Regions from separate parts of the Homo sapiens genome. Here region 2 is linked to region 1. The links come from fine-mapping of genetic effects on gene expression. Tissue or cell type: thyroid. Region 1 holds a variant in brackets; the other region holds the start of a gene. All regions are shown on one strand. Distances are between the middles of the regions.

What was found.
Region 2: ARHGEF16 starts here. The variant in region 1 is fine-mapped to the expression of ARHGEF16 in thyroid (GTEx, PIP 0.97).

Annotation. Positions count from the first base shown.
Region 1 is chr1:3,479,184-3,483,682 of GRCh38, reverse strand. ARHGEF16 (Rho guanine nucleotide exchange factor 16) reads right to left here. Exons shown (of 15, transcript NM_014448.4): 13 at 4,093-4,166; 14 at 3,770-3,871; 15 at 2,570-3,235. The coding sequence ends at 3,096. Among named protein-coding and RNA genes, the nearest start is that of ARHGEF16, 27 kb to the right of the region's middle. RefSeq lists an enhancer at 1-588. The variant C/G (reference allele first, on the strand shown) is at 2,342.
Region 2 is chr1:3,452,730-3,456,729 of GRCh38, reverse strand. It overlaps ARHGEF16 (Rho guanine nucleotide exchange factor 16), which reads right to left and starts at 2,065. Exons shown (of 15, transcript NM_014448.4): 1 at 1,919-2,065. RefSeq lists an enhancer at 3,231-3,983.

The DNA.
Region 1 (4,499 bases):
GTCCCATCTCTGGCTGGACGGAGGGACCGGTGGCCTGTCGAGTCTGATGGCTGTCCCGGCCTAGCTGGGGCGGCCACTCCCGCGTGGCTTCTGTGCTCCTGTGAACCACACCCCCCTTGCTCCCCTGGCCGCAGGAAAGGTTAGGTGGTGCCTGTCTGGACCCAGCAGTGTCCACTCTGTGCCCGCCCAGGGCTGGGCACTGAAGTTTGCCAAGATGAACCCCAGCCCTCGGCCTGGGCTATCCTGCCCAGGGTGGCCTTGGGGACAGGGCTTGGGCGCAAGGCCTCAGCAGCAGCCCCCTCCCACTGCCCTGCATCCACACAGCCCCCACAGCACCCCAGGCCAACAATGGCCTGAAGGATGGGCTGGGACACCAAGCACTGTGGGCACCCTGGCAACCTACTCGGGGCACAGGCCTTGTTGGCTAGACGGGTGTCTTTAGAGCCCTGATAGCCCCCTGCAGTGGGAAGAGGGTCTTTGGGCCTCAGTTTCACCCCCTGCAACAGGAGGGTCTGTGCAGCCAGAGAGCTACCCAGGCTATGTGGCTGCACAGGAGGGCTGAGCAAGGTAAGCCCTGTCTGTCTCCTGGGACCCCTCTCCAGCTGAGCCCGTGTGGCAGAGCCCCCGCAGGAGCCCTATTATCTGACTGTGGGCGGGGAAGTGTCCCTGGACCCCAACACTGGAAGTACGGGACAGGCTGAGGTTCCATGAGGAGAGTGAGCAAGAAGACCCCGGGGAGGGGGTGATCGTCCTGGGGGTCCAGGCTGGCTCTGTCCTGCTGAGGGGGCCATAGCACCTGGGCCAGTGAAGGCGGCACCCCAGGCTGAGCAGGGGCCCTCGGACGGGCGTGAGCTGGCACTGGTGCTGGGGACGGGGCTACACAAGCCTGTGGCCCCCTCTCCTGACGCCCCTCCTGCCCATAGGTCTCGCCCCTGCCTGGGCCCACACCTCACTGGCAGCCCAGGCCTGCGCTTCCTGACTCTGCCGGGAGGGGCTCTCGTCCTGAGCAGGCCTGAACTGGGCCCTCCCCAGGTTGCCCCAGATGCCCCCAACAACAGCCTGGCCACTGCCATAGCAGGACAGCCACCCAGCCTGGGCCCGGACCCCCTCCCTGCAGGCTGAGCATTCTCACTGCCCGCTAAAACGCAGAGGCTGCTGTAGCCACTTGCAGACGGAACTGAGGCGCAGAGGCTGAGTCACCTGCCCCAGGTCACATACGTGAGAGTGAGGTCACAGAGTCAGAGGCCAGGCTTTCCAGATCCGCCTTGCTCCGTGAGCTGAGCATGAACTTGGCAGTGAGAACCGCCCGGAGGCTGCAGGGCAGCTGGGTTTACACGAAACTGCTGCCCCCTGGCTACCCGCCCCCCCGCCCCCCAACACACACGCACACACAGAGACAGGCATGCTAGCACACATGCACACACCACCTGCCAACACACATGCCCTGCCCTGGCTGCCAGTTTGCTCCCACAGGAGCTCCAGGAAAAGCCCAGGGAGTAACCAGTTCACAGGCAGGACAGCGGAGGCTGGAGATGCCACGCTGGGCGTGGAGGAGCTGGCCCCATCTCAGGGGATTCTGCTCCCAGGTGCCTCCTCTTTCCCAGAGCCCTGGCTGTGCCCCGCCCTGCGAGGCGGCCGCTGACCAAAGCCCTGCCCAGGACAGTCCTGCGTGGGCTCCGAGCCTGGACTGGGCCATTGCTGCTGCCCAAGGCCATGGAGGTGACCGGGAGAGGAGCTGGCCCTCCTCGCACTGCACGGCCCTCCAGACCTCGCCTCCTCCCCTAAGCCCTGGTCCAGCAGGCGGGGGCTGGGAGCAGCGTGTTCTTTCAGCCCACCCCACCTCTCATGCACCAGGTCCTGCAGCTGCCCCAAGCCTGGGAGGGGTGGAGGGCAGTCTCCTATCACCATTTCTGGTTGGCATATGGGGTAGATGCACCCCTGACTTTCCTGCAGAAGCCAGGGCCCCAGACCCAGGAGGATCAGGGCAGATTCTCAGGTGTATGCTGGGTGCTCCCTCCCTGAGGACAGCATTACCCAAGCCCACAAAGGCAACGGGCATTGGCGTCGGACACAGGAGGGCTGGTGGGGGCTTCCTGGGACAGAGAGGACCAGTCCTCCTCTTGCTGTGCCACCCCAGGTCAGCCGACTGGCTCAGGGACTGCCTCTTCTGCCTGCAGCTCCCAGGACGAGATGGCTGGGAGGAAAAACTGGGAGGGAGGTGGGGCCTGTCTCCAACCCTGGGGACACTGCAGAGGGATCCCCAAAAGCTCTACTGAATCCCGGAGTCCTCTAAACCACTGGCCAGCCTGGGCCCTGCAAGGCGCAGCTGTGCCGCCCCTGG[C/G]TTCTCAGTACACGATCAGGGGCCGCTGGCCCTGCTCCAGTGCTCCAGCCGGTGGGCAGACTGGCCACACCAGGGGCGAGCTTGGGGCGACCACACATGACACGGCACCCAACACAAGGGGGCCATGCACAGGGGGCCTGGTGCCGGCCCGCGGCATCCTGAGTATGTCCCTGGAAAATGTGTGGCCACGGTCTTTGCCTGGGCTCAGAGTCACTGTGAAAATCCAGGTTCTTAAGAAATAACTTTAATGTATTTAGAAACCTCAAAACCGAAATCTCCCTGCCGGGTCCCCTCCCTCCGGCCGGCCCCTTCTCAGAACGTGGGGCACTCCTGGGCACTCAGGGCCCTTCTTGTCCCACTCAGGGGTAGGAAGGGCATAGGAGGAGACCTCGCATTGCCCCCAATAATCGCTATTGGTGCCTCCTGTGCCCATCAGTCCAGGTGGAGTTGCCCCCTGGGTGCAGTGGGGAGGTGGGGCCCAGCAGCTGAGGGGCCCAGCCAGCCAACGGGAATAGGCTGGGCTCCCTGGGACACGGTGTGGCCCCCTCGAGCTTGCCTGGGGGTGCCTCTCTGGGGACATGTGATCTTCCTTCCGTGAAGTGTCTGGAGCCCGGCACCACAGCCACAGGCTCTTGGGAAGCCCCAGGGAACCATGCTGGGTCCTTGAGACCAGCTCCCCACGCTCTCTAGAGCCAGGCACGACCACTTGCTGATTGGAGACAGGCTGTGCTGCCGCCGGCTGGCCTCGCCAGGGCTACACGTCCGTCTCCACCCGCAGACGCTCCATCCTGCGGACATTGCCCTCCACGGCCACACGGCTGGTGATGAAGCGGGCAAAGTCCTCGGGGAACCATCCCGTCTCTCCGTCCCGGAGCCTCTCGCCATAGAGCCACCCTGAACCCGGATAGGGGTGGGAGGGAGGTGAGGGGAAGGCCGTGGGTCCCCCGGCCCCTCTGAGCTGCTATGCCTGAGCACACCAGGGCCAGGCTTCTCCTAGAACTGACCACCTGCTCCTGCTCAGAGCAGACAGCTGCTGAGGCCTTGCTCATGGTCACCGGGCACCCAGCCCCTGCTCAGGTGCTCGCCACTGAGAAGGGTGCTGGGCTGAGCACACCCCACACAGCGCTGCCCGGCATGAGGAGGAGCCCTGCCTGCCCTCTGCAGGCTCGTGCTGGGCCTGGCTGAGCGGGGATCCCCTGGGAGGGCAGAGACACCTCCTCCTCCCCACGTGGGACACAGTGACCATGAACCTGCTTTTGATTCTGAGGTTTGGGGATGTGGGAGTGCTCCCTTTGAGGAAGCCCTCGAGAGAGGGTGAGCACATGGTCAGCCTGCAGCCCGGCATGCTCTGGACCTGGCCAGGCTGGACGCTGACTCACGCCCGCCTGTCCGTTCCCACCCATCTGTGCCCAACGCCCCTGCACTCACCATCCTCCTGCTGCAGAACCAGGACCACGTCCGCCTGCTGCAGTGTGACCTCGTCTGCTTGCTTCGCGAAGAAGGCCTTGGTGATCTCCACCTGGGGCAGGTCTGCATAGGGCAGTGGCCATCACAGGGCTGTCGGGAGGCATGGGCCAGGCTCCACTCCCCAACGGCCTCCAGCAGACACATCCCCCGGGGCCGGGGCACCCCATCCCCCGACTGCCAGGCCCCAGCACAAGGCCAGGTGCCAGGCTCACTTGGGCTACAGTGGGGGCCAAAGTGCCAGCCACGGCAGAGGGCCAGCCCTGCAGGCCCCAGCCCGCACTCACCTCCTTTGCTGGAGAGGCCCTGCCACTGTCTCTCACTGTGTGTGAGCGCCACGATCCACCGTGCCCGGTCACTCCTGGGGACCAGAGACAGCATGAGCCAGGCCTGGAGACCGATCCTGCCCGTCTGATGTTCCTTGACTTCTGACAGCCACCCATGGGGGCCGTGGCAAGGAGATGGGGGTGGTGGGGGTGGGCAGGAGTGGCTGGGCAGACTGTGCCAGGCAGGCTAACCCCCAAGTCACCCCAGCCCCAGGTCACAGAGTTGGGTAGTGGCCACACACCCAGACCCCAGCCTGCTGGACCTGAGGCCACCCCGTTTCCTGGCACTGGGCCCCAGCTCCCTGCCCCCTCCGTTTGCTGTGACAGACTCAGCCTCAGCATCCTCATCTGGAAACGGCCCAGAGCTG
Region 2 (4,000 bases), 27 kb after region 1:
GGGTGACAGGTCTCCTGCCACCCGTTCACCCGCTGTAGGACAGACACACAGACAGTGCCCTCTGAATGCCCTGTCATCCACTGTCTTCTGCCCCTCCCCAAACTTCTGGAAGGTGGGTATTTTCCCGGGCAGGTAAGGAAACCAGGTGCAGAGGGAATGTGGCCTGCGGGGGTGGGACTGCTGGCCAGGCCCTGTCCTGACCTGGATGGCTGTCCCCAAATGGGGACCGGGGGGAGTGGGGGTTCTGGCCTCAGCCAGGGAGTCACTAGAAATAAGGACGCTGCTCCAGACGGATGGTCCCCTGTGCTAAGGACAGGAGCAGCCCAGATCCATCTGGAAACCAAAACTAAAACTCAGACCCAAACTCGCGGGGAGCGCCTGCGCCTGGATCACAACGTGAACACAGATGGCCATCCTCAGGATGGGGACCTGCGCGTCACATGTGAGCTGTGGGGACCCTGGCACGCCGCTTCTCACTGCTTCACCTCTGTGCCTCAGTTTCCTCATGTGTAGGTGGAAAGTGCTTCCCACATAGGGTGGTCCTGTGGGTCAGAGATGGCCCCCGAAGAGCCAGCGACCTCAGGGAGGCCCCCCAACAAGGGTTTCTCCCCAGTGTCCAGGTGGAGGGAGGGCCCATCCCACCCTCCAGGTGACTTTGGTCCAGGTGACTTACTTCTTCCAGGAAGCCCCCAAGACACCTCCCTTCCAGCAAGACTGGGGTGGGTGAGGAGTGCCTACCTTCAGCCCATGGCTCCTGCTCTGGACAGTACCTTTCATCTCACCCTGTTCCCCTCTGCTGGCTGTGGGCATCGCACAGCAGGGTCCACGTCTGCCTGGCACACTTGTGGGTCAACATCTTCTAACTCAACACTCCTACTAGTCCCATTTTACGGATGAGGAAACCGAGGCCCCAAGAGCTGCTTAGTTCACAAAGAGCCAGGATGTGAGCCTGAAACCCACACACCTGGGAACTATGCCACGGAGGGGTCAGGACCTGCAGCCAGGCACAGCACCTGGACCCTCTTGCTGGACCCCCAGCCAGGCCCACACGCACCCCCTAGGCCCCCATGTTAGGTGGTGCACAGACTGTTCCCCTCAAGGACACAGAGAAGATTCAGGCCTTGATTCAGGTCAGAAGCAGAGGTCACCAAGACCTGCCATCGCTGCCACTCCCTCAGTCCCCCCACCTGCTCAAATCTCAAAAGGGATACTGTTCCCATTTCACAGACGCAGAAAGAGGCTGAGCGGCCAAGACAAGCGGCCACGGCTCCCTGGTAGGTGGGACGCACCCCTCCCCCTCCCCATCTCCCTTCTCAGGGGAGACAAAGCAGGTCCCTCCCTGCCACCGCCCACCAAGGTCAAGGGTGGGGGAGGGGCGTATGGTTTGGGTTTGTCTTGGGTGTGGGGTTCTTCCTTCTCGGGGCTTTTCTGAAATTTTGGGGCCAAAGCAGGTTTGGGTGTCAGATTCCCCAAAGAGCTCCCGGGAGGGTCGTTCTGTTCCGCCCCCCACCCCATGCTCTTTCAAACTCCCTGGGGCTTCCAGAGTCCTCGGCGCTCAAGTCTGAACCCAGGTTCCGGTTGCATGGAAGTTTTCCTTTAGGAAGAGGAAGCGGCCACTCGGGGTCAAGAGAGGGCAGCGAGCGAGCGGGCGGGGGCAAGCAGGGGGCTGCCTGGTGTGTGTGGGGGGGCGGGTCCAAAGTCGCATCCGGCTCAGCCCGCGAGCCCCGCCTCTCCCGCCCCGGCGGAGCCCCAGGAGGGTCGCGAAGTTGTTGCGGCTGCCGGGGCGGGGCTTGCGGGAAAAGCGAGGGGGAGGAGAAGCGCCCCGGGTTCCCGGCGCCTCCCCCGGGCTAATCCCCCCACCCGGCTCCCCCGAGCCCCGACTCACCTGTCCCCCGGCTCACCTGTCCCCCAGGCTCACCTGCGCCGCGGGGCGGAGGGACGGAGGGGCGGCGCGCTGGCGGTGCAGCTTCCAGCGCCGGGTCCTGTCCTGTCCTGCAGCCGCTTCGCTCCTGCGGCAGCGCGGTCCGGCCCGGGGCGCCTCCTCCGCTTCCTGCGCGGTCTGGCTGGAGGGCGGCGGCTGCGGCCCCGCAGGTGGGCGCTGGGCGGGCGGGGCTGCTCCGGGTCCGAGGGCCCGGGCGGGGAGGGCCGGGGAGGGGGCGGGGCGCGTCCCGGGCACCTGTGGCGGCGCCGCCTGCGTCACAGGTCACAGCCCCACCTGGGCCGGCTGGAGCCCACGTGATCGCCCGGACTGGATCGCGCCTCTCGATTCCCGCCGAGCCGCCGCCGCCCGGTGCCTGCGCCTTCCCTCCCCGCGCCCACGCCCCCTCGAGGCCGGCCCGGGAGTCGCCTGCCAGGCGTGGGGCCAGAGCGGCTCGGCTCCCTCCTGCGTCACTGTCCTTCCAGGCCCCGCTCCACTGCCTCCTCCAGGAAGCCTTCGGGGAAGGAGACCAGCCCTGCGGGGACCGATGTTTGCTGTAGAAAGGCCCGGCCCTCTGGATTCTTGGAAGCCAGGCGGCCAAAGACAGCCAAGAGGGCGCAAAGCACTCTGGCCACCTTTTTGGTGTGGTTGAGTCGCGGTCATCCCCATTTCACAGAGAAGGACCGAGTCCTGGAAAGGAAGGCGCTCGCCCTCGTGCACAAGGCTGAGCCTGGACTCCGAGCCTGGCCTTTCCTTGCTCCGCCTGCTGGGAACCCGTGTGAAAGTGAGGGAGGGCCCCGGGCAGAGGCTGCAGCAGCCCCCCAGCTGGGGGTTCAGGAATCAGGCCACCTGGTGCTGTGGGAGGGGCTGGGGGCTGAGCCAAGCCTCCCAAGCTTGGGCCTGGCCATTCAGGAATGTGACCTGAGGTCCCAGGGCTCAGACCCACTTCTGACCTGCCTCCATCATCCCCTTTTCAGGAAAGGCCTGTTGCCAAAGGCCTCCATGTGAACATCCACACTGGGCTTTGGGTCAGCTTCTACCAGCGTCCCCTCACTGACCCCAGGCCTTGGGGTCGTGGGCCGGGCACCGGTGTGCCAGCCAGAGGCACTGACCACCCTCCTCCCAGGACCTGCCTCCCTGGCCTGGGCGGCCGTGAGATCCCGTTGCGGGTTGAGGAGACACCACAGGCTCTGGGGCTGTCACTTGGCATTTTCTCAGGTGTCATAGGTAGAGGGGCGGCCTGCCCTGCCCCTCCTGCTCTGGTCGCCCCACCCACTAGTCCCCCAATGTCTGCCCTGTGGCTGGGGCTGCCTGGGTGTCAGGTGCCATCTGGGCAGGGCACAGGCTGGCCTCAGGGATGGGTCCCGTGGGCCATCCATCCCCTGGGAGGGAGGGTGGATGAGGGAGGAGCTAAGAGTTGACCCCTGTGGGCTGCAGCCTCCACCTGGAGCCGCCTGTGGGGAGGTTCCACTTCCAGGCAGCTCTTGGGAAAGGCAGGTGGCTGCTGCCCTCCTGAGTCCATGATGGGTACTGCACCGACGAGGCCCGGCCTGCCGGAGGGAGCTGGGGTGTCCCGGAGCCTTGACCCGTGAGGGGACTGAGGTGCGGTGGGGTCACTGAGGCCCAGTGAGGGGACAGAAGCCTTGCCCCAGGCCAGTCAGCAGGACCCAGGTTCCTGATTCCCACTGAGTGCTTTCCTGTAAAACCCTCTTTCAGTAGCTGCCTCCAAGTTACCCCCAACCCCACACCTTCTGTCCAGCCCCTGCTGGGCCCGTTCAGCCACCCTGGGTCTGGCTTCGTCTCCCCATGTCCTGCTGGCTTCCAGAGGCCACTCAGCGTGTGCTTGGGATGGTCCCTTTGCTGGGGATGTCACCTGAGCTGGCGTCAGGACCTCTCTGTGCCTCTGTCACCTCTGCTGTAAATGAGGGCCTGATGCTGGCGCAGGAGATCGCCCTGGCATGAGGCCTAAGGGAGAGGTTGGAAGGAACCAGCTTGGAGACCTAAGGGGCTCGCAAGGAGAGAGAGACTCCGGGGAGGCCTGCCAGTGGGAGGCCTGCCAGTGGGGTCGGCCCGTGGCACTTC